Linked DNA regions of Homo sapiens. The protein of the gene in region 4 purifies or fractionates together with the protein of the main gene of each other region. This does not show direct contact. Each region holds a gene or a part of one and is shown on either strand. Other genes may lie near its edges.

Evidence for each region.
Region 1: the proteins of AKAP8L (region 4) and ZKSCAN5 purify together in Homo sapiens (co-immunoprecipitation; one large-scale study listed by IntAct). This does not show direct contact.
Region 2: the proteins of AKAP8L (region 4) and RRBP1 purify together in Homo sapiens (tandem affinity purification; one large-scale study listed by IntAct). This does not show direct contact.
Region 3: the proteins of AKAP8L (region 4) and NEK10 purify together in Homo sapiens (co-immunoprecipitation; one large-scale study listed by IntAct). This does not show direct contact.
Region 5: the proteins of AKAP8L (region 4) and ANP32A purify together in Homo sapiens (tandem affinity purification; one large-scale study listed by IntAct). This does not show direct contact.
Region 6: the proteins of AKAP8L (region 4) and KATNIP purify together in Homo sapiens (tandem affinity purification; one large-scale study listed by IntAct). This does not show direct contact.
Region 7: the proteins of AKAP8L (region 4) and TOP2B purify together in Homo sapiens (tandem affinity purification; one large-scale study listed by IntAct). This does not show direct contact.

Annotation. Positions count from the first base shown.
Region 1 is NC_000007.14:99,511,162-99,514,661, reverse strand, and holds part of ZKSCAN5 (zinc finger protein with KRAB and SCAN domains 5), read right to left. Parts: intron 2,210-3,500; coding exon 2,071-2,209; intron 1-2,070. UniProt on the Homo sapiens protein: May be involved in transcriptional regulation.
Region 2 is NC_000020.11:17,675,743-17,679,242, reverse strand, and holds part of RRBP1 (ribosome-binding protein 1), read left to right. Parts: intron 1-3,500. UniProt on the Homo sapiens protein: Acts as a ribosome receptor and mediates interaction between the ribosome and the endoplasmic reticulum membrane.
Region 3 is NC_000003.12:27,289,384-27,292,883, forward strand, and holds part of NEK10 (serine/threonine-protein kinase Nek10), read right to left. Parts: intron 2,204-3,500; coding exon 2,101-2,203; intron 2,008-2,100; coding exon 1,879-2,007; intron 1,372-1,878; coding exon 1,234-1,371; intron 1-1,233. UniProt on the Homo sapiens protein: Plays a role in the cellular response to UV irradiation. Mediates G2/M cell cycle arrest, MEK autoactivation and ERK1/2-signaling pathway activation in response to UV irradiation.
Region 4 is NC_000019.10:15,412,489-15,415,988, forward strand, and holds part of AKAP8L (A-kinase anchor protein 8-like), read right to left. Parts: intron 1-3,500. UniProt on the Homo sapiens protein: Could play a role in constitutive transport element (CTE)-mediated gene expression by association with DHX9. Increases CTE-dependent nuclear unspliced mRNA export.
Region 5 is NC_000015.10:68,782,896-68,786,395, forward strand, and holds part of ANP32A (acidic leucine-rich nuclear phosphoprotein 32 family member A), read right to left. Parts: intron 1,701-3,500; coding exon 1,502-1,700; intron 159-1,501; coding exon 61-158; intron 1-60. UniProt on the Homo sapiens protein: Multifunctional protein that is involved in the regulation of many processes including tumor suppression, apoptosis, cell cycle progression or transcription. Promotes apoptosis by favouring the activation of caspase-9/CASP9 and allowing apoptosome formation.
Region 6 is NC_000016.10:27,553,144-27,556,643, forward strand, and holds part of KATNIP (katanin-interacting protein), read left to right. Parts: intron 1-470; exon of another isoform or gene 471-490; intron 491-3,500. UniProt on the Homo sapiens protein: May influence the stability of microtubules (MT), possibly through interaction with the MT-severing katanin complex.
Region 7 is NC_000003.12:25,630,408-25,633,907, forward strand, and holds part of TOP2B (DNA topoisomerase 2-beta), read right to left. Parts: coding exon 3,434-3,500; intron 2,388-3,433; coding exon 2,286-2,387; intron 2,177-2,285; coding exon 2,039-2,176; intron 533-2,038; coding exon 394-532; intron 63-393; coding exon 1-62. UniProt on the Homo sapiens protein: Key decatenating enzyme that alters DNA topology by binding to two double-stranded DNA molecules, generating a double-stranded break in one of the strands, passing the intact strand through the broken strand, and religating the broken strand.

The DNA.
Region 1 (3,500 bases), on a different chromosome or scaffold from region 4:
GTGCTGGGATTACAGGCATGAGCCACTGCACACGGCCAATTTTTGTATTTTTTGTAGAGGTGAGTTTTCGCCACATTGCCCAGGATGGTATCAAACTCCTGGGCTCAAGAGATCCACCTGCTTTGGCCTCCAAAAATGCTGGAATTACAGGCATGAAGCTACTTTCTTTTATACCAAAAAGATCGCTAACACCTTTGTTTAGCTTTCATTGAACACGGTTGAGAATTCCAAATTTTTCATTTGCTGCCCACATTGGCAAAGAGAGGAAAATTTGAAGAGGATGACTATTATTAGGCAACTCAGTAGATGACACAGAAAGACAGCTGTACTCTCTAATGAGAATCATGAAACTGAAAGTGTAACAGAGATTCTAGAATGAGTTTCAAATGATAACATCCTAGATAAATTTTCTTAAACTCAAGAATCAATGATGAACAATGTATTTCTAATTTCAAAAAGGGAAATGGCATTCTTATCTTGTGAGTCATTCAACAGCAAGGACTTCATCACACAGTATTTTGTAATAATAAGATAATAAGAGATTCTGGACCATCACATTTTGCTAGAAGGACTAAATTTGCTAAAAGCATTGTGTGACAGTATTCTTTTCTTTTTTGAGACGGAGTTTTGCTCTTGTTGCCCAGGCTGGAGTCCAGTGCCACGGTCTCAGCTCACTGCAACCTTTGCCTCCTGGGTTCAAACGATTCTCATGCCTCAGCCTCCTGAGTAGCTGGGATTACAGGCACGCACCACCATGCCCAGCTAATTTTTTGTATTTTTAGTAGAGACGGTGTTTCATCATGACGGGGTTTCATCATGTTGGCCAGGCTGGTCTTGAACTCCTGACCTCAGGTGATCCACCCACCTTTGCCTCCCAAAGTGCAGGGATTACAAGTGTGAGCCACTGAGCCCGGCCTTGTTTTTTTGTTTTTTTAACATAAGCATTAAGACAAGAAAATCTATGAGGGAGGCTGAGCGCAGTGGCTCACACCTCTAATGCCAGCACTTTGGCAGGACAAGGTAGGTGATCACTTGAGGCCAGGAGTTCAAGACTAGCTTGGCTAACATGGTGAAACCCCATCTTTACTAAAAATCCAAAAATTAGCTGGGCATGGTGGCAGGCACCTGTAGTCCCAGCTACTCAGGAGGCTGAGGTGGAGGTATCACTTGAACCTGGGAGGCAGAGGCTGCAGTGAGCCAAGATCGCACCACTGCCCTCCATCCCAGGCAACAGGGTGAGACTCTGTCTCAAAAATAAAAGAAAGACAATCTATGACAGAAAGGCAAAAATCTGTGATACTTTTGTAAAAGACGTGTAGATCTTTTAACAGTCCCTGTACCCAGAGCTGTCATCATTTGCGTTGTAGGTTTTTAATGAAACTGGTGTAATTCAGCAATAAACATACGTGTGCATGTGTCTTTCCCAAATGTCCAACAATGATAGACTGGATTAAGAAAATGTGGCAGTACACCATGGAATACTGTGCAGCCATAAAAAATGATGAGTTCATGTCCTTTGTAGGGACATGGATGAAATTGGAAACCATCATTTTCAGTAAACTATCGCAAGAACAAAAAACCAAACACCGCATATTCTCACTCATAGGTGGGAACTGAACAATGAGAACACATGGACACAGGAAGGGGAACATCACACTCTGGGGACTGTTGTGGGGTGGGGGGAGGGGGGAGGGATAGCATTGGGAGATATACCTAATGCTAGATGACGAGTTAGTGGGTGCAGCACACAAGCATGGCACATGTATACATATGTAACTAACCTGCACATTGTGCACATGTACCCTACAACTTAAAGTATAATAATAATAAATAAATAAATAAATAAAAGAAAAAAAAAGAAGCTGGTGTAATTCCTAGCCATTCTAGGAATGGCTTTCATTGAACACCAGGGACTCAACTCCAGGTCCCTGGCCTTTCCCTGCTTCTAGACCCTGCAGGCTGTAGAGAGGCTGCTCAGCCTAGAGTCTCTCTCCCGCAGATAGTGCCTGCCACATGGCCAAGGCACCCACTCTTGAGCTATATCAGTTCCACTGAATCACTGAGCCTCACCATTTTCCTCCAGGAGACGAGGCTTCTGTGGCGCTTGCTCAGGCTGGGTGTCCACGGTCAGGGGATGGGGGCTGCAGGACTCCTGCACTGCTCCAGGTGTTGCCATCTTCCGAGGAAGCACATCAGGGCAGGCAACAATCTAACAACCACAACCAAAACCGATCAGTACAGTTACAGAGAAGGCCACGAAAGAAATCAGTAGAATCATGGTGGACTTTCATTCATTCCTTTGCCAAATATTTAATGTGCATCTACAATGAGCCACGCACTGATTATGCAGTTACTTAATAAACATGGTTTACTTCTAGTTGGAGAAGACGTTCATCAAACACATCAAAACACAAATAAATACATAATTACAAACTGGGCTGTATGTTGGAAAGGAGAAGAAACTAATTCCATGAGACAGAACACAGGAGACCTATTTTAGACTGGGAGGCCAGGGAAGGCTTTCTGGAGGAAGTGTCCCGTAAGCAAACACTTAAAGGTTGAGAAGGGCTGGGCGCACGGGGTGGCTCACGCCTGTAATCCCAGCACTTTGGGAGGCTGAGGCAGGTGGATCACTAGGTCAGAAGATCAAGACCAATCTGGCTAACACGGTGAAACCCCGTCTCTACTAAAAAAATACAAAAAAATTAGCCGGGTGTGGTGGTGGGCGCCTGTAGTCCCAGCTACTCAGGAGGCTGAGGCAGGAGAATGGCATGAACCTGGGAGGCGGAGCTTGCAGTGAGCCGAGATTGCGCCACTGCACTCTAGCCTGGGTGACAGAGCGAGACTCCGTCTCAAAAAAAAAAAATGGATGAGAAGAAGCCAGCCGGGAAAAACGTAGAAGTGACCCAGGCAGAGAGAACACTGAAACGGTAGCTCATGCCTATAATCTCAACACTTTCGGAGGCTGAAGCAGGAGGATCGCTTGAGCCCAGGAGTTCAAGACAAGCCTGGGCAACACAGTGAGACCCTGTCTCTCCAAAAAATTAAAAAATTAGCCAGGCATGGTGGCATGTCCCTGTGGTCCCAGCTACTTAGGAGGCTGAGGTGCGAGGATCGCTTGAGCCCAGGAGGTCAAGGCTGCAGTGAGCTATGACACACCACTGCACTCTAGCCTTGGTGACAGAGCAAGACCCTGTCTCAAAAAAGAAAGAAAGAAAGAAAGAAAACAAAATTCTCAGGCAGAAAGAGGATGTCTAGTACAGTCAGGAATCATGAGAAGGCCAGTGTGTGAAGAGGAAACAGAGGTGAGAAGGGAGATTGGAATGGTCATCATAGCACTCAGTAAGTCACACTGGACAGACCAACACTGAGACTGAGGCTACCTCACACCCCTTCTGTTTTTGGTTCTTGCTCAGCCCTAGATATACACAATTACTCTGCCACAACCACTCTCTAGAACCTGGAATTCTGGAAGGTACTAGCTCACTACTAACATATTG
Region 2 (3,500 bases), on a different chromosome or scaffold from region 4:
TTTTTAAGGTTCACTTTTTAGAATCAGATTCCACAACTGTGGTTTACATTTAGGCCTTAAAATAACCCTGTTCTAGGGGGTGGGAATGGTTGTCACCCATTCAGTGGATGAGAATGTGGAGGTCCAGCTGGTCAGAAGGTTGTCAGGCCAGTTCCTGTTGCCCAGTTGCTAGGCGATGTGGGCCCGGCCTTCCAAATGTTCCCTCCTGGCTATATACCTCCACCTTCCTGGGGCAATAATTACCCAAGGGAGGACACAGAACGTGAAGATCAAAATTAAGAGCTTCAGTGGCAGGAAGGTGGGGAGGCATTTTGAAAATCTGGCAGTGCTGAAGGTATTTTTCATTTCATTTTTTTCACCGAGGGTCTCCTGTGTGGTGGGCCTTCAAACACCGCAAGTGAGACCTAGTTCTTGCCTGAAAAAGCTACTGTCTAGAACTGTGTTGTCCAATACAGTAGCCACAAGTAGCAATTTAAGTTTAAAACAATTCAAATTAAGTAAAATTAAAAATTCAATTTCTGAGTCAAATTAGCCACATTTCAGGTGCTCAGTAGTCATAAGTTGGTCAGCGTGGCTGTAGATGGTTTCCACCATCACAGAAAGTTCTAGACAGTGCTGATGTAGAGGCAGCTGGTATTCTGTAAACATTCATGTCCCTGTTCCTCTTGATCATGTGGTAATATGTTGAACCACATGAAATTGCCCATTCTGTAGGTCAAAACCAGTTGACTAGTGGCAGTTGATACACTTCACCTGATAAGATCTCACCCTGAGAAAGCATTAGTCCCGCCTCTTTGTGTGCATTGTAAACTGCATTCCAAGAAAAAGGAGTGGGAGGGGGGCCACACAGATAGTGGCCCTTTCCTGGAGAGATTTTTTACCCAATGCCCTCAGCATCAAAATGGTGACTTGTAACAAAGACAGAAAATAAATTGATATTAGGTAGAAAGTGATGGCTTGTAAGGGAAGGTAAATATTTAATTTTAAGTGACAGTGCCTAGGCAAGGAGGCACTCTCACTTAGCATATAGAAAATTAGTTCAGGGGCCTCCTAGGAGACTTTTCTTAGGCAGACAAATTCTGGCCGAGTCTCCTGAAGCAGACAACCAGACACCCCCAAAACCAGACGTGTGTGTCCTTTATGTGCATTCAGTAACATGTGTCTTCCACCTGTCAACAATGGGCAGCAACTTTAACTTATCAAGAACATTTTGTGATTTCTAACTTAGATTTTTTTGGCAAGACTAGAATACCTGCCCAGTCCCGAAACCTTTTCAGTTCCAAAGTATTGGAGTTCCAGTGTTCTTGGGTGGCATAAATTGCTTCCTACACCAGTGACTATTTACACAGCTCTGTTATTCTCCATATAACTTTTTTTTCTTTTTCTTTTTTCTCTTTTTTTTTGAGACAAAGTTTCGCTCTTGTTGCCCAGGCTGGAGTCCAATGGCGTGATCTTGGTTTACTGCAACTTCTACCTCCCGGGTTCAAGTGATTCTTCTGCCTCAGCCTCCCAAGTAGCTGGGATTACAGGCATGCGCCACCACACCCGGCTAATTTTGTATTTTTAGTAGAGACGGGGTTTCACCATGTTAGTCAGGCTGGTCTAGAAGTCCTGACCTCAGGTGATCTGCCCTCCTCGGCCTCCCAAAGTGCTAGGATTATAGGCATGAGCCACCGTGCCCGGCCTCCATATAACTTCGAAAGGATCATTGGGCAGTACTGGGGAATAATTTTTGAATTCTTGGTTGTACTTGTGGGCTCATCTTAGTATTAGTACTCTGTAAAGAATAATATAAAACCAAAGTTTAACTTTAAAGGAAGAAGCTGAATGATGGACAGCTACTTGATCTCTTTCTGGTCAGAAAGGAGGCCCACTAAGACTACTGGAAGTTACAGACTATTTATAGTGATAATGAATATCATCTGCTGACTCAAAAGTTGGAATAAAAGACCATCTTGAATTCAAATCTTTAATTCTCTATCCTGGGCAAGGTATAAGCAAACAAGGTCTGTTAGGGTATAAGCAAACAAGGTCTGTTAGGCTGTCTTGAGAGGAATTCCAAACTGGTGCCCTGTGTGAGCTGAACTTGGCCTTCACATGGAATTTGTTTCACTGACCTCATGTTATTAAGCAATTGAGTCACCTTTTAAAAGTGGAATTTTTTTTTTTTTTTTCACTAAAATCTAGATTTTTTGGGCTGGGCACAGTGGCTAATCCCTGTAATCCCAGCACTTTGGGAGGCCAAGGCGGGTGGATCGCTTGAGCCCAGGAGTTTGAGACCAGCCTGGGCAACATGGCAAAACCCCATCTCTATAAAGAATGCAAAAACTAGCCAGGCATGGTGGCATGTGCCTGTAGTCCTGGCTACTCAGGTGGCTGAAGCAGGAGAATCATTTGAACCTGGAAGGTGGAGGTTGCAGTGAGCCAAGATCATACTACACTCCAGCCTAGGCGACAGAGTGAGACTCTGTCTCATAATAAAAAACAAAAACAAAATCTAGATTTTTGGGTTCTCTGGGGGAAAATGGGAATTTCTGGCTACACTAGGTTGACTTTCTTGTGTGGCAGCCGTGGACTGTGTTTGTCCTCTCTAAGCTGGGCCTGTGCTCTCAGTGCCCAGCATCCTACCCCAATATATGTTATGTGCTTGGGTATTGGCAGTCCCTCAGGGTGCTGGGGGCTGTCCGGTGTGACCGGACTAGTCATCAGCTTGTCCCACGGAGCTGCTGTGTGGAGCAGTGGGAGAAGCACTGGTTGGGTGTTCTGATCCCTGGAGTGAGTGAGTGACTTTGGACATGACTTCTCCTCCCTGGGCTTCAGTTTTCTCCCTCCTATAAAATGAAACTAGGCCAGCTAGCTCCACCTTTCAGGCCACAAACCTCGGTTTATCCTTAACTCCTCGCCGTCTCATACCTGTACCCTGTACGCAGCAGGTCCCATCAGCTCTACCTTCCAGACAGAGCCAGTGTGACCATTCTCACCACTTCTGCCTTCTCCCTGGTCCAAACAGCTCTTACCTTTTGATTTTTTATTTCTGAGAGGGTCTTGTTCTATCACCCAGGCTGGAGTACAGTGGCGCAATCACTGCTCACTGCAGTTACAACATTGCAGGCTCAGTTAATCCTCCTGCCTCAGCCTCCTGGGTAGCTGGTACCACAAGTGCATGCTACCACACCCAGTGAATTTTTAGGTTTTTTTGTAGAAATGGTGTCTTGCCACGTTGCCCAGGCTAGTCTTGAACTCCTGGGCTAAAGGAGTCCTCCTGCCTTGGCCACCCAAAGTGCCAGGATTGTAGGCGTGAGCCAGCATGCCCAGCCTGCTCTCACCTCTGCCCCGGGTTATTTCTCTAGCCTCTGGTGGGCTCCCTGCCTTTGCCTATACCCCCTGCCTTCTAGTCTGTTGCCAGAGCAGACCATGTCACTCCTCTGTTCAAGACCCTCCTTGGTCAAGGTCTCCAGTGGCCTCTCAGGGCACTTTCGCTCTAGCTTCACTCCTACCAT
Region 3 (3,500 bases), on a different chromosome or scaffold from region 4:
ACTCAATGTTATCATCCTTTCCATCAGTTTGATCCTCTAGTGAGAGGGCAATTTTGAGTTACCTCAAAGCCCAAGCATATGCTTCCTATCTGACCCTAGTTTGACAGTTTCTTTTCTTAGGAAATGTGCTAAAACAAATAATCTACTGCATCAACTAGCAAGTGGCCAGCAGATCGTAAGCAATATGTGACCAGGTAACCAACCAGAACCATATTCTGGACCTGGCTCACCCACAAGGACTAAAACCAAATTTGGGTCCAGATGAAAACACTGGACTGGCTTAGGTCAAAAGCCCTGTTCTAGCCTTGTGCTACAATGAAAGAGCACACTGTGGAAGGCTAGATGACCATACAAACACATGAACAAACTACACATGAACAAACTTTTTAAAGTCTAGTCTATTAGTATATAAAATCAACTATAAAATAAACAATTAATGATAATATTTACTATAATGTACACACTGGAGTAGAACTATCGATTTTTATGAACAAAGGTCTCCTTGTTTATGGAATTTGTTACATCCCAACACAGATGCTATGCAAATGTGACCAGTGGAGGACAAAAGCAGCAAAGCTGATAGTGCACCACAGGAATTATAAATGAACAGTATTCGTGATGAATGTGCAAATAAGGAAGGCTGAAAAAGAAACCAATGTGTTCTTGGATCACACAAAGAAATTCCATTTCTCTTTGAAATGTTTATTCTTCCTCCTCAAACAAACTTTCATAATGAGAGTTAATTGAGCTGTTACATTATATCAGAGTATTCTGCTCATGCCAATACATAATAACCCAACTTGAAAATCTACATTTTAGATCTAATAAAGTCATATTTGAGGAATGTTAACAGCTTGGTTCCATTTGGCAAAAGTCAAGAAACTCTTAGTCATATTTCTATGTATGTAACTAAGTAACCAAATATCCTAAAATATAAGGAGAAAAGAATAGATATGCTCACAATGAAAAGAAAAGGATTTCTCATATATGATGCATTCTGTACTGTAAATCCGATTGTTTTGCATCCATGACCCTGATATAAACTCCAGACAGTGTTTTATGCTTCAATGTCAAGCCTTAGGAAAAAAGCTGGCAAAAATATCACTGCTTCAGTGTCAATTATTTCACATGGAACTAGTTCATAAGCAGCATGGACAAGAGCACCACAACTCTACTTTCTTGCAATGACATGTATTTAAGAAAAACATCTTCAGAAACAAGGAAAACATTTACCTGCTCTTTAATTATTGTTAATTCAGAAACAATATTCCTTACGCTGCTGTCTCGATCTTTCTTATCCTTTCCAAATGCTGGGTTATGTAAATTGACCTCTTTCATTGCTAAAAGATTTTGACCACTATGCTTTCTAACCTAAAATAAAGAAAAACACAACAACAACAAAAGGAACAGGGTAAAGAAGGAGAAGAGAGAAAGAGGAAGAAAGAGATAGACTAACAAAGTCACATGAGTAACTAAGTCATATAAATAAGTCACAGAGCATTTAAAGTTCCAGCTGTATTTACATTAAGCTCAGCTCAAAACATCAAAACACTGGTATCCCCTGGGTCAGTCTGCAATACTTAGTAGCATTTTTTAATTTAGAGATTGCATCATGCATTGGGAGAAACTATTTTGAATACCTTTGTGAGAGATTAATAATGCCTTTTGTCTTAAAAAGTCAGTGGCCAATTTCTAGAGCTTACAGCTAAAACAATATTAGTGTGGCTATCTCTGTTGGACAAAAACAATCATTCTAATTTTCATATCTGTTTGCTATTTTTCAATGACAAGAGTTCTAATTCAATTGAATATCGGTGTGCAAGTGTGACATCCGGTTTGGTTGGGAGTATCAGAAATGTTCCCCAAGGGGAAAGTCACCTTGTAAACACAGCCAAAAGCTCCACTTCCAAGATGATCCAAAATTGCATAGTTGCCTATATATTTCAAAGGAGCTTTGTTCTGATTAATGCTTTCAATATTTTCAGCAATTTGCTTCAGTTCATCCTCCTAATCAAAATATAAAAAGGAAATGGGTTTCTGTGATAAATTACATCCTGACTACATAGCAGCCTGCCAAAATATTGAAAACTCAGGACTTACCACTAATAAATTCAGCTTGGATACCAATTCTTCATAAGCACTGATATCACGTACATAATGCCCTATGTCAATGAAGATCTCAAACAAGTCTGTGGGGAAAAGTCTACAGAGAATATTACACACACTTAAAGTAGAACTTGGACACAGTTGATCATTACTTCCCTTTTTTATTTTTTTGAGACAGAGTCTCACTGTGTCACCCAGGCTGGAGTGCAGTGGCACGATCTCAGCTCACTGCAAGCTCTGCCTCCCACGTTCACGCCATTCTCCTGCCTCAGCCTCCCAAGTAGCTGGGACTACAGGTGCCTGCCACCATGCCCGGCTAATTTTTTGTATTTTTAGTAGAGACGGGGTTTCACCATGTTAGCCAGGATGGTCTCGATCTCCTGACCTCGTGATCCGCCCGTCTTGGCCTCCCAAAGTGCTGGGATTACAGGTGTGAGCCACCGCACCCGGCCCATTACTTCCCTTTTGAATGCAGCTCACTCACTGATTAATTACATGAAACAAATTTAACTTCTTTTGGTTATCAACAAAGTTGGGGAAATAATATTCCCCAACTTATCTCGAAAAAATACACTATTTACAGTTTTTGAGAGGTAAGAAAAAAACAAATGGAGAAGAAAGTTCTAGAGATCTGCTGTACAACCTTGTGCTTACAGTTAATAACACTGTACACTTAAAATTTTAAGAAGGTAGATGGCATGTTAATATTTTTACCATAATTTAAAATTAGATATGATACAGATTATACAAAAATCTTACTTGTAAGATATTTGGGGGTATAGGCATTGAATACATTAGAAGGAAACATTTATTGGGTGTTTTTTTGGGTGTGGAGCACTTTCACAAATGTCATTTAACTCAGATTTTAGTAAGAAGTAAATACTAACCCAACTTTTAAATAAAAGTTTCATGAAAATAAAAATACTGGTACATGAAAAATAAAACAAATAAAGAGATTCATTCATCATTCCCAAGACACTGGTTTCAAGGGGTTTTAAAATCTTTGAGTTCACTAAAAGGGATGATTTAGAGCTCTGAAATGAAAGATTATAAAGAATAAGTAGCTGGGTGTGGTGGCTCACGCCTGTAATCCCAACACTTTGGGAGGCCAAGGCGGGTGGATAACCTGAGGTCAGGAGTTCAAGACCAGCCTGGCCAACGTGGTGAAAACCCATCTCTACTGAAAATACAAAAATTAGCCAGGTGTGGTGGTGCATGCCTGTAGTCCCAGCTACTCAGGAGGCTGAGGCAGGAGAAGCAACAGGATGAGCCTTTGTCAAAAAAAAAAAAAAAAAAGAGAACTAATTTTACTTCATTTTCCTCTAAATCCAAACAGTATAGAAATAAAGTAACAACATAAAATGCTCCATGCTTTCTGCACTTGATCTCAGCCA
Region 4 (3,500 bases):
CCTGACACTTGCTTTAAAACTACATTAAAAAAAGAAAAAACAACAACTCTACAGTTAGAAATACATATATATTTTTTTGAGACGGAGTCTCGCACTAGGTTGGAGTGCAGTGGCACGATCTCGGCTCACTGCAACCTCCACCTCCCGGGTTCAAGCGATTCTCCTGCCTCAGCCTTCTGAGTAGCTGGGACTACAGGCGCGTGCCACCATGTCCGGCTGATTTTTTTGTATTTTTAGTAGAGATGGGGTTTCACCATGTTAGCCAGGATGGTCTCGATCTCCTAACCTTGTGATCCGCCCGCCTTGGCCTCCCAAAGTGCTGGGATTACAGGCGTGAGCCACTGCGCCCGGCCAGAAATACATATTTTTGAATAATTTTCTCTCAGCACTGAAATTACGACAGATACCATAAGAGGCAGTATTTGCCTTTCCCATCAGAGCCAACTCATGACCTGAAAATTAAAGCCTATGCCTTTAACAGCTTGTTTACATCAAAAACCTACAGAAGTGCCTTCCCCCTGGGTAAGCGTTCTCTTATTTGTTGACAGTGTCTCTATTTTATCTCTTAAGACCACAGCAGCAGCAGCCAACAGCAAACAAGTGCTTTCCCTGCAGGGTGCTAAGAACATTTATCTGCAATGATCTCATTTCATCCTCACCACAGACAATAAGGGCAGGTGGGCAAGATTCCTTACTCTGCAATTCCCCCAGGTCCAAAAGGGTCTGAACACCAAGTGTTTTCTACCAGTGTGGTGCCAAAACTCACGCTGGAGCTGTTTTCACCTGTAAGGACATTTATAATCTTTCTTTGTCCTACTTAGTGCAGAATTAATCTATTTAAATACAAGGTGCTTCCCCAGACCCCACGTGACTTCTCTTAAGCTAGAATTCCAAAATACATCTAGCTCCAAGGGTTCCAAAGACGGAGCTGTGAACCCAGCTTCATCTTCACTTTCCAGAGTAGGGACTGGGACTTGAGGCAGGATAAAACCGAGGGTATACAGATCCAGTCTTCTACCTTCCCTAAGTAAAGAGGCTAGAAATCCATTCAAATGGATTCCTTCCAGGGATCTGGACCTTCCTGAGATGCCTAAAATCCAGGCATTGTTGATTAATAGCTGTCCATAAGAAACACTGAGAGCAGCTTTGAAGAGTTCACCCAGGGGAAAGCCTTATAATGTAAGGAATACCCAGCCCCTGCGGTCTCCACTGTTTGCTCAACTGGCCTCTGGAAACTTGTTCTTTCAGCAATTGGGCCACCAGTAAAATGGCCTCAGACTTTAGGTAATGTGATCTGTGAGTACTGCAACTGCAAATGACAGCCTACCACACCCTCACAAGATACAGTCAGCAAGCTGCTGAGCAAAATATCTGTGTCTGTTCAGGCGAGAGGGGCCCTGGTGCTTCCCTAGGAAGGAAAGACGATCCATCAAACCCTCCAAGATCAATGGCAATCTCTGCTCTAACTCTATACCCTGCACCACATTAACATTCTGTTCCACAATACCATCTGCAAAGATCGCAGAGCAGGCCCTTCTGTAGCCAGTTTTGGCTCCTATTATGAATAATTCTTTTTTTTTTTTTTTTTTTTTTGAGACGGAGTTTCACTCTTGTTGCCCAGGCTGGAGTGCAATGGTGCGATCTCGGTTCACCGCAACCTCCACTTCCCAGGCTCAAGCGATTCTCCTGCCTCAGCCTCCCGAGTAGCTGGGATTACAGGCATGCGCCACTACGCATTTTGTATTTTTAGTAGAGACGGGTTTTCTCCATGTTGGTCAGGCTGGTATCAAACTCCCGACCTCAGAAGATCTGCCCGCCTCGGTCTCCCAAAGTGCTGGGATTACAGGCGTGAGCCACCACGCCCGGCCTAAATTCTTAGCTGGTTTGTAAAGTGTTCTCTTGGTACAATTTATCAGCCTGATTAGCGCTGGTTGAAAAAAATAAAATATGCCCTATATGGCCCTATAAAGCTAAATGTTAGATCACAGATTTCTTTTTTTTTTTGTTTGTTTGTTTTTGAGACGGAGTCTCGCTCTGTCGCCCAGGCTGGAGTGCAGTGGCACGATCTTGGCTCACTGCAAGCTCCGCCTCCTGGGGTCACGCCATTCTCCTGCCTCAGCCTCCTGAGTAGCTGGGACTACAGGCACCTGCCACCACGCCTGGCTAATTTTTTGTATTTTTCACAGAGATGGGGTTTCGCTGTGTTAGCGAGGATGGTCTCGATCTCCTGACCTCGTGATCCGCCCACCTCGGCCTCCCAAAGTGCTGGGATTACAGGCGTGAGCCACCACGCCTAGCCCACGGATTTCTTTCTTTCTATTTTTATTAGAGACAGGGGGTCTCACTGTCATCCAGGCTGGAGTGCAGTGGCACAATCACTGCTCACTGTGGCCTCAGCCTCCGGGGCTCAAGTGATCCTCCTACTTCAGTCTCCTGTATAGCTGGGACTATAGCCACGCACCACCAGGCCCAGCTAATTTTTGTTTTCTTTTTCTTTTTTTGTTTTGAGAGACAGGGTCTCACTATGTTACCCATGCTGGTGTTGAATTCCTGGGCTTAAGCAATCCTCTCACTTTGAGACCATGGATTTCTAGTTCTGCAGCAACACTCCTTGCTTTTAACCAATCTCTCGTCAACTTTTTTTGCTCAAAAATACAAAAGCAGGCCAAATGCTGTGGCTCATGTCTGTAATACCAGTACTTTGGGAGGCTGAGTTGGGAGGATCACTTGAGCCCAGGAGTTCAAGACCTGCGTGGCAACATAGTGAGACCTCATCTCAGAAATAAAAAATTAGCCAGGCATGGTGGCATGCACATGTAGTCACAGCTACTTGGGAGGCTGAGGTGAGGTGGGAGGATTACTTGAGCACAGGAGGGCGAGGCTGCAGTGAGCTATGATTTTGTGCCACTGCACTCCAACCTGGGCAACATAGTGAGACCCTGTCTCAACAAAACAAAACAAATGCTTCTCAGTTTTATACTTTTCCTTTCTCCTTTTTAAAAAAGAGTATATATTTTCTTGAGACAGGATCTTGCTCTGTTGCCCAGGCTGGAGTGCAATGGCATGATCATAGCTCAGCAATGTTGAACTCCTGGGCTCCAGCAAACCTCCCAGTCAGCCGGGCGCAGTGGCTCATGCCCGTAATCCCAGCACCTTGGGAGGCCAGGGAGGGCGGATCACAAGGTCAGGAGATCAAGACCATCCTGGCTAACAAGGTGAAACCCCGTCTCTACTAAAAATACAAAAAATTAGCCGGGTGTGGTGGCGGGCACCTGTAGTCCCAGCTACTTGGGAGGCGGAGGCAGGAGAATGGCATGAACCTGGGAGGCGGAGCTTGCAGTGGGCCGAGATGGCGCCACTGCACTCCAGCCTGGGTGACAGAGCAAGACTCCGTCTCAAAAAAAAAAACAAAAAAAAAATCCCAGAGTCTCGCTGTCATCCAGGCTGGAGCACAGTGGCACAATCATGGCTCACTGCAGCCTCAACCTCGCAGAGCTAAC
Region 5 (3,500 bases), on a different chromosome or scaffold from region 4:
CAGTCAGTGGGACTGCCTCAAAGGGGCAGACGGTGGCCCTGCCCAGCCCAGCCTCCTTACCTCCTCCTCTCCACTCACGTCCTCCTCTTCACCTTCCTCCTCCTCATCCTCGTCCTCCTCGTCTTCCACTACCTGAGCATCTTCATCATACTCCTCCTCTGTGCAATCGAAATGGGGAACGGAAACAGAACTAGTGGTGAGCTGGCTCCGCCCCCCACACAGCACAGGCCCCTTGTAGCGTCTTCAGTGTGGGGCTCATGACCCTCCCACACCCACCTAAGTCCAAAGATGGAACACACTAACTCTCATGAAAACAGTGCTGACATAATTAAACACATCCTGAAGTTGTGCCAAAGATAAGCCCCCCTCACAAGTGTTATGCATGTGAAAGGCCCCTTCTGGAGGCCTCTCACACCGAGACCACCAGGAAATTGTCAGAGCACAGCAACAGGTTCCAGGGCCCGGGAAAGCGGCAAGATCAAATCAAACTCCTCAGGTTAAAGGTGAGAGATCTGAGGCACAGAGAGAACTGACTTGTTCAAGGTCACGCATCGAGTCACTAGTTGAGCTGGGCCTAGGGGACCTGGTCCCGGGACTGCCAGTTTTGGCTCCTTTCTGCCATATCACAAGATCCCCACCAAGGCAAACATGGTCTCTGAGTATCTTGCAAAACACTCCCAATTGAACAAAGAAAACCAAAATCCTGTATCTGAATTAATTAATCAGGCAAGTGTCTCCATTCTCAACTTTATCTGGCCACGAAGATGCATGGGAAAGCTGCACTGTGCTGGTGGCAAGGGAGAAGGGGAGGGAACAGGACTCCCTTCTTTTCCCTCCTTCCTTCCTGTAGGCCTCGACTACACACCACACTGCCAGGGAACCCAACAAGTGGCCTGCAGTCCTCCACTTCTGAGCACCTGGGGCTCCTGAGCACCTGAGCCTGTGCCCCTAGGTGTGGGGCTGTAGGCTGCAACCACCAGGGGGCCCCACAACCCCTCTAGCTCTGGACCTCCTCTCCACTACTGAATACCTAGATGGGAAAGAGGGGTCCTCAGGCCACACACTCTTCTCTCTCTATCCCCTCCCTCCCTCCCTGGGAGAGTGTCTAAGTGCGGGTCACACTACAGAAAGACTGTAGAATCCCACTCCCTGGGGGCTTTGGAAAAGGGACAAAAATTGAAGTGGGGATTCAGTTGGATGGTTTTAAAGGAGTTATTATGCAGTTGGAGAATCTCAGGATATTTCCATGAGCATGGGACTCATGCTTTGTTCTTTTAGGGAAGTCAACCAATGAGACAGATTAGGGACTATGGAAAACAAAGCAGACAGCCCTACTCCCCTCCATAGCTTTGGAAGGTGGTAGCTACCAGACAGACAGCCAGCCTTCAGTAGCTGGGTGGGGGCCTCCCAACACCCAGCCCACCCACCTCTGCAAAGCCAAGGACGAGCCCCAAGGCCTCAGCTGGGCCCCTGCAGCCCTGGGCCGCACCCTGTCACCCACCATCCTCATCCTCCTCCTCATCATCCAGGCCCTCCACGTAGCCCTCAGCATCCGAGTCAGGGGCCTCCTTGTCGTCCCGGTCATAGCCGTCGAGATATGTGAGTTGCGGGAGGAGCTTGAACACATTTTCTCGGTAGTCGTTCAGGTTGGTTACCTCGCAATTGAAAAGGTCTAAGCTCTTGAGGTTTTCTAACTTTTTCTGCAAGCGGAAAAATGAAGCCAACAGTAAGTGATTTGTGGGAGGAAGGTGGAGGAACAGCCCTAGCAAACAGGCAAGGATGCCATGAGATAGCATGCGCAGACCATGACTTCCAGGTGATAAGGAAGCTTGGATTTGGCTCTGCTTAGCCACAGTGTTTGCCCAGACATATCACCTGCAGTTTGTGGGCCTCGGCGTCTCCATCTGGAAAATGGGGGGTTGGACTGGAGGATCTTTGAAGCCTTATCCAATGTTAACACTTTTATTCTGCAATTACAGCTTCTGTCTTAACAGTGATTGACTTGAAATTAGCCTGGGGCTTTCTTGGTGCATGAGCCAAGAGGTTTACTGCCTCTCCCTGAGACTAAGGAGCCAGAGGGAAACCAAAAGTCAACTTGAACTAACAAACTAACTCCTTCTGCATCTGATAATGATGATGATAAGGGCGGTTAACATGGCACTTCATGTACTGAGTCACTTTATCTCACAACCCCTGTAAGGTAGAAATAATTATTAGTTAATTTCACATATGTGGAAATGGAGGGCACAGGATTTGGTAATTCATCAGGCAGCCCAACTTCAGACCTGTGCTCTTACTCTTTGAATATTGCCTGTCAAAAAAGGACAAGAGAAAAAGCAATGGAGGACCCCAATTCTGTCCATGGTATTTGACACGATGTGCTCTGTCAAAGCTTTACACCAGACGGGTTCTAGCCAATGTTATCCCTGTTTGATGGTAGAGGAAACTGAGGCCCAGGAAGTGAAGGGTCATACTGCTTGCAAGTAACTGAGCTACATTTTGACTTCCCACCTCACCCACCTTTGAGGCACCAGGTACAAAAAAATCCCATCCCAGGCTGAGTCCCCATTCCAAAGGTGGCCAGGTCTAACAAGGGAGTGAAACCATTGCTCCTTGGAGTCAATGTCGGGAGCTAGGTTGCTCTCTCTATGACCTTGCAGTTGAGACCTGGGTCATTCTCAGCAGAAGCCAAGGGCAGGGAGGAAGTCTTGACAGTGGTCTGTGTGGGCAAGCCCAGCACCTGCTACCAAAAGCAGCTTCCCGCCCCAGGACGGTAAGGCAACACACACTGACAAGCAGGGGCGGAGAAAGCACTGAGACACGTGTGATCTGGGCAGGGGGCAGTGGAGAGTGTGAACATGAACGTGCCTGAGTGCCTGACCCCTAATGGTGACTGAATCACAATGTTTTACAAGGATTTTATATACTCAATCCCCATACCTCACCCATATACAGAACTTCAAAGACTTTTTCCTTTTGTAATGACATTATAAAATCAAGACTTCCAGACAGATCAAAATAGTTTGGCTTTTTCCTAGGAGACCAGTGAAAGGCCTGAAAAGAAGTTCTGTGGGAAGCACATTCTACTAGTTGGCCCCAATGCCATCGATGGACAGGTAAAGAGCTTGGAAAAGAAATGCCAGTGTCCTCTTCTGCCACACTGGCCACCAGCAAGTCCCGTGAGCATCCATGGAGAGCAAGGAGTGCCTTTTGGGACAGAAACCCTGAAAACTCCAGCCCAATCTGAGGGATACCCAACCTCCCCTATAAACCCAGAAGGGAAATTTGGCAAACGTGGCCAATTGTCCTCCTGGCCTTTCCCTGATTCTAAGATGCCTGAGGTGCTGCTGCTGCTGCTTTTTTTTTTTTTTTTTTTTTTTTGGAGACAGAGTCTCACTCTGTCACCCAGGCTGGAGTGCAGTGACGCGATCTCAGCTCATTGCAACCTCTGCCTTCCAGGTTCAAGAGATTCTCCTGCCTCGGCCTCCCGAGTGGCTGGG
Region 6 (3,500 bases), on a different chromosome or scaffold from region 4:
GGTCGTTTAGAAAATGTTGGTTCAGTGAGTTATGCAAATCTAAACGTTGACCTTTCAGATGCCATTATACGGTATTTAAAAAATCACATTTGTTAATATCACCACCTATTTCATTTTAAAAAGGAGTTTAAGTATTAGGAAACTATCAAACTCAAGGTAATGGAAACAAGTTTTCAACTTGTTTTCACTTGACAGCTTGAATTTTAACATTGGCAGCAAATATTGTCAGCTGTTTCCTTGAAGTGACAGACTCACTTATTTCATATTTGAGAAAATTTCTGCCAAATTCCCAAGACTGAATAACCAAAATTTGTCTATTATTTTATTTACTGCCATGTACTCACATTTAAAACAAACAAACAATTATTTTTATTTAAGAATGTCCTGATGGTTGGGTTCAGTGGCTCACGCCTATAGTCCCACCGCTTTGGGAGGCCAAGACAAGAGGATCTCTTCAGCCCAGAAATTCAAGACCAGCTTCGTCAACATAGTGAGACTCCATCTCTACTAAATAAATAAATAAAATAAATAAATAAATAAATAATAGTCAGGCATGGTAGCATGCACCTGTGGTTCTAGCTGCTAAGGAGACTGAGGTGTGGGGATCACTTGAGCCCAGGAGGTCAAGACCAGCCTGGGCAACTTAGTGAGACCCCATCTCTGTAAAAAGTAAAAAATTAGACAGGTATAGTGGCTCGTGCCTGTAGTCCCAGCCACTCAGGATCAGTTGAGCTTAGGAGGTTGAGGCTACAGTGAGCCATGACTGTGCCACTGCACTCCAGCCTGGGCAAAAAGACCTTGTCTAGAGAGAGAGAGAGCAGGGGGTGGGGTGGGGGGAGAGAGGAGAGAGAAAGGAAGGAAGGAAAGAAGGGAGGGAGAGGAGAGAGAAAGGAAGGAGGAAAGAAGGGAGGGATGGAAGAAGGGAGGGAGGAAGGAAGGAGGGAAGGTTTCTAGTACATTGTGGTAACATTGCCTTGATTCAGACTGCAAGCAGTTTTACCCACCATTGCTTTGTGTCATAAGTACAAATGTCAACACAGCCAGATGGGGTGGCTCACGCCTGTAATCCCAGCACTTTGAGAGGCCAAGGTGGGCGATCACCTGAGGTCGGGAGTTTGAGACTAGCCTGGCCAACATGGTGAAACCCTGTCTCTACTAAAAATACAAAAATTAGCTGGGCATGGTGGCACATAACTGTGGTCCCAGCTACTTGGGGGAGGCTGAGGCAAGAGAATCGCTTGAACCCAGGAGGCAGAGGTTGCAGTGAGCCAAGATCATGCCACTGTATTGCAGCCTGGGCAACAGAGTGAGACTGTCTCAAAAGAAAAAAAATTCAACACAGTGAAATACTCTTCAAATTATGATTAAAATACTTTTGTCTTTGTGGACCCCTCCTTCTCCCAGGATCTGCACCTTTGAGAAACATTGCTACAGTCCATTTTCAGGAAGGCTGCTTTGTGCCTTCTAATGAGCATCTCTGTACTTGCAGTCTTAGGACGTTATTGTAGCCTAGTAGAGGGGTATGTTCATTTTCAGATTGGCCCCCAAAAGGAAAAATTTATTCTCAGAAGTGTTTACCCTAGGGTCATATTTGACCTCCAAAGAATCCCATTTTCTGTTCTGATTTTTTAAACTTTGATTTACACTTTTTTTTTTTTTTTTTTTTTTGAGACAGAGTCTCGCCCTGTCACCCAGGCTGTAGTACAGTGGCGTGATCTTGGCTCACTGCAACCTCTGCCTCCCAGGTTCAAGCGATTCTCTTGCCTCAGCCTCCTGAGTAGCTGGGATTACAGGTGCACGCCACCACGCCTGGCTAACTTTTTTGTTTTTTGTTAGTAGAGATGGGGTTTCACCATGTTGGTCAGGCTGGTCTCGAACTCCTGACCTCAGGTTATCCACCTGCCTCAGCCTCCCAAAGTGCTGGGATTATAGCCATGAGCCACCGCACCTGGCCCTGATTTATACATAATTTTATAGGCACATACCTATTTATTGGATAAAGTGAAGCATACCTTATTGTGATTCTAACTAACTAGGTAAGCCAAGCCTGGCCTTATTAGAAAGATGTTTACTTCCTACGTTCACAAAAGCTTAAATGTCTAGCAGATGCCCTCCAAACTGGACTGTAATTTAGTTTATTCGGCATGTCTTAATCACCATAGCTTTTCACAACCCTTTCCCTGGCCTTTTGATTTTGACTTTGGGCAGGTCCTATCTGTTTCTGTGATGCAGTGTAATGTCCTTAGGTTTGGGGGCCAGATAGCCCTGGATTTGAATCTCTGCTGTACACTTTGACCTCTCTGAGCCTTGGTTTTCCTGTCAGTAAAATGGACATGATAATGAAGCCTACCTTGTTTTGTGGCTTCAATGAAACAATGCATCAAGTCTGGCATATAAAAAAATGTTCCTGGCTGGGCGCGGTGGCTCACGCCTGTAATCCCAGTACTTTGGAAGGCCGAGGCAGGCAGATCACCTGAGATCAGAAGTTCGAGACCAGCCTGACCAACATGGAGAAACCCTGTCTCTACTAAAAAAATGCAAAATTAGCTGGGTGTGATGGTGCATGCCTGTAATCCCAGCCACTTGGGGGGCTGAGGCAGGAGAATCGCTTGAATCTGGGAGGCAGAGGTTGTGGTGAGCCGAGATTGCGCCATTGCACTCCAGCCTGGGCAACAAGAGCGAAACTCCGTCTCAAAAAAAAAAAAAGTTCCTACAGCCAGGCGCGGTGGCTCATGCCTGACTTTGGGAGGCTGAGATGGGTGGATCACGAGGTCAGGAGTTCAAGACCAGCCTGGCCAAGATGGTGAAATCCTGTCTCTACTAAAAATACAAAAATTAGCCAGGTGTGGTGGCGGGTGCCTGTAATCCCAGATACTCGGGAGGCTGAGGCAGAGAATTGCTTGAACCTGGGAGGCGGAGGTTGCAGTGAGCTGAGATTGCACCACCGCACTCTAGCCTGGGCCAGTGAGTGAGACTCTGTCTCAAAAAAAAAAAAAAAGTTCCTATATAGTAGCTGTTGTTATCATTATCTGCAAATAGGCAGACTTATTCCACACAGTTGACAGAAGAGGGAAGCGTGCTGATGAAGCTCTCTAGCAGATGATAACTTTTGTAATTAGCACACTCTTTGCTTAAGAGAAAATCCAATGTTTGACATTTTTTATTCCATGAAGGTACATTGGCAGTGTGTGTTTTCTGCCTATGAAAATGTTCGCCTTTCTGTTAAAGTTGAATTTTCCCCAGTACTTTAAAAATATGAAATGGTTTAGGAAAAAAAATTCTATTTCATTTTCAAGGAACATAATAATTAGACAAAAGTTCAGCACATTGATATAATTAGAAAGGATTTGGAAGTTGTTCATTTGCTTTTCACTGCTCCCCTAGAGCAAATATTCAACATTTCCCTTGTTTATACTGTTCATTTGCTTAGCAAACTTTCTCAAATAATTAATAATGCCAAGATGATATTTAGCCTCACTTGTCCAAATAATCCCAGACTG
Region 7 (3,500 bases), on a different chromosome or scaffold from region 4:
CAGTGATTTGGCAGAGTCTCCCTCTGTTAATATCAGTGTACACTCCAGGGAATGTTTACCACCTGAGAGAAATTTAAAATTATACATAGTAAAAATTTCTCATACTTTCACTGATGAGAAAAATGAAGTCAGAAAATTAACATTAGAATGCTGACAGTGAAAGACTATAAAAGTTATTTTACATTATTGCTCAGTATAAATATTAAGTATATTTTATTAAATTCCTATCCCCTGAAAATTAGTAATATGTTGTGTATGTGATAATTTCAATGAAGTAAAATCATACTCTGAATGGAAAATCATAGTCTAACTATATGTAGAAAATAAAAAAATTCTGTAACTAAATAAAAGTGAAACTTAAATCAAAATCTTATTTAAAAATATCAATCTTACCAGCATCATTAGCATCATCCAGTTTGGGAATACCTTTGATTTTACTGTATTTTACTGATGAACACTTCTTATTCAGCTGAGTCTGAGCCTTAAATTTCACCCAGTTCAGGATACTTTCTACAATGCCACAATTAGAGGCCTAAAAATAAAAGAATAATGGTATACAAACAAGCTGAAAATTCATACATTTAGCTAAAATGTATAGGGCCTAATGCAAGACCTGGAATCTGTGCAATTTTAAGGTATTTTAGGGCAAAACAATAATGGTGATAAGCATCATGATACATGCTAATCAGCTTTTACTCAACTACTGTAAAATTAAAGCTAAAATATAAATACATGAAAAAGGATAACTTTTACATATGAGAAACATTCTATTATAATAAACTCCATGAGGAATATGCATTGCTCTTGTTACAAATTAATTTTATTAAAATTAACACAGTGAAAACAGATCCACACATGAACCTACTAGCCGGCAAATTCCAGACGTTGACATTTCTGATATCCTTCAATACAAAACGTGAGTCTTTAATTCACTATGACAAAAAGTATTAACCTAAAAGGAACATTAGGATAACCTTGGTAACTTATGAATAGACTTTTATTCTTTAAATAGCTTGGTAATAAAGATTTCAACATTACATATTGTTTGTACTCTGCAGTGAATCAATCTGTGGCAAGATGTTAACCCAGACAGAAAAAGGAAAAGAAAGTTAAGCATCTCCAACTCTAAGTCCTAAAAGTTTTTTTATCATCCTCGGTGATTTGATGTTAGGTGTATAAAACAGTTTTCTGGAATGTTTAAGACATAAACAAAAGAGGTGAACTGTGTTGTCAAATTTAAACTTAGTGCACCTAAAATGAAAAAGTATAAAATTTAAAATCAAATCACTTCATCAAGGAAACAATTGTTATGAGGACAGAAATTTGGGAAAGCATTAATATAGCATAATTTGTACTCAGAATTCATTAAGATTAGATCCAAAAGTACTATTTCTACAGGCCTTAAGTTAGAACCTAAAAAACAACTTTTGTTTTTGTTTCTGATAATCTACTTTTTGGAATTTGAGAAATACATTAGTTCTAGGGCAGTTATAGAGCATTTCCCCACCAAAATTCCAAAGAGGAGAGGCTGTGATTGATTCATCTCCATTATTTATTTGTGCTCTCACCTTATTTTAGAGAAGTTAAGGTAGCCTAAAAAAATTATGTGCAAAGCAAAGCAATTTAAGAACATGTAGAAAATAGTACATTTTGTTATACATGTTACCACAATTTTTAAACATGTATAAAGATAAGAATCAGTAGATCAAGTTGAAATGAGAGTAGAAAAGATGAAAGAGTTGCATAAGGATCTGGACATCTGTTAGGGGAAATCTGACCTTTACAATGGTCAATACAAAGCTAAAAATGCAATTAGTTACATAATTCCCTACTTTAGTTCTTGGCAAAACAATTGTTTTAGGAAACATTAAAGTCTACCCTTTAAAGTTATCAAATTAAGCATATTAGTTTGTAGTGCAAGCATGCTTATACCCACAGTTAATACGATGAAAGAAACTAATCACAAATAAAGTAAATCAAGAAAACTACCTAATCAACTCTTAATAACAACAATAAAAAAAATACAAGTTTTACTCACTGCTTTAAAAAATTTTTCTGACAGCTGGCATTTAGACCCAAAACTTTTGGGCTGCAGAGTCATGTTTTCCTTAGTCTGAGAATCAAAAGTTGGATTTTCAATAAGGCAATTAATAAAAACCCATATATGGTTTTTTACCTGTTGAAAACATACCCAAAAAAGTCAATATCAGAGCTGATATTTAGTAATTCAGTATATATATAATGCATATGTATGCATCATGTACAATATATAACACATCCCTTACTTGAAATGGTTTCACTGATACACCAGCTTTGTTCTTTTTCTTAACTACTTCAATCAGTTTACCAACAACTTGATCTACCACATAATCCACGTGCCGTCCACCCTAAAGAAAAAAAAATATATGAAATCTGAAATCCTGTATTGTTAAAGTAGCAAAATACTTTATCTGTATTATAAACCCTATTTTCTAAAAGAGTAATAGAGTCTCAGAACGAGAGTTGAGATTTTAAAAAAATAAGACATTTTGGCTACAGAGCCAATAAACCAACCGCTGTGTTTTTTTTGTTTGTTTGTTTGTTTGCTTTCCTCACTTCAATTCTAACACCAATTCTCAGGTGCTTTCAACACCAGCAACCAATTCTCTGATTCTCCAGACACCAAATGGATGTTCAACAATGTAATTCAATTTTGATACTAACTACCTGGAGTTAGCACAAGTATTTAGGGTTGGTTAAGGGCTCAATCCCACAGGACTCCCCACACTTCAGATGCCAGTTACAAGTCCTAGGCCTCCTGTACTTCTAACGAACCTATGACCCACTCCTCAGGAATGATAATTTGCTGGAACAGGTCACAGAACTCAAGAACACACTTTACTTCATTTACAAGTTTTTTATATAGGATCCAGCAATAATAGCCAAATGGAAGAGATGCATAGGGCATAGTACAGGGGAAAGGGTACACAAAGCTCCATGCCTTACCCAGACATGCCACCCTCTTGGCACCTCAAATGTATTCACCAACCTAGGAGTTCTGTGAACTCCATTGTTCAGGAGTTTTTACAGAGCTTTATCACATAGCCATAATTGATTTTTAACTCAGTCACCAGCCCCCTCTCCTCTCCCCAGAGGTTGGGGAAGGTGGGGCTAAAAGTTACAGAAAAAGGAATTTGTTATTCTAAATTTCATAAAATATAAATATGTTCAACTACAAACACTAGTCATATAAATTTATTTCTCAATAATTGTTTAAATAAATTTTAATACAGCAATTTCATAGAAAATAGGTTTTTGTTTTCATAAGTCAATTCTTATTTAACAAAAACAGATTTGGGTTTTTTGGGGGTTGTGGATATTGTTATTTGTTTTGTAGTTTTTATTGAAGTACTGTTCTACCACTGACTTGGAAACAAATAATTTGCTTACTTACTTTTGTAGTTGCAATACTATTTACAAAGCTGATTTGCTGGAATCCTTTTTCACTCAATGTGAGACAA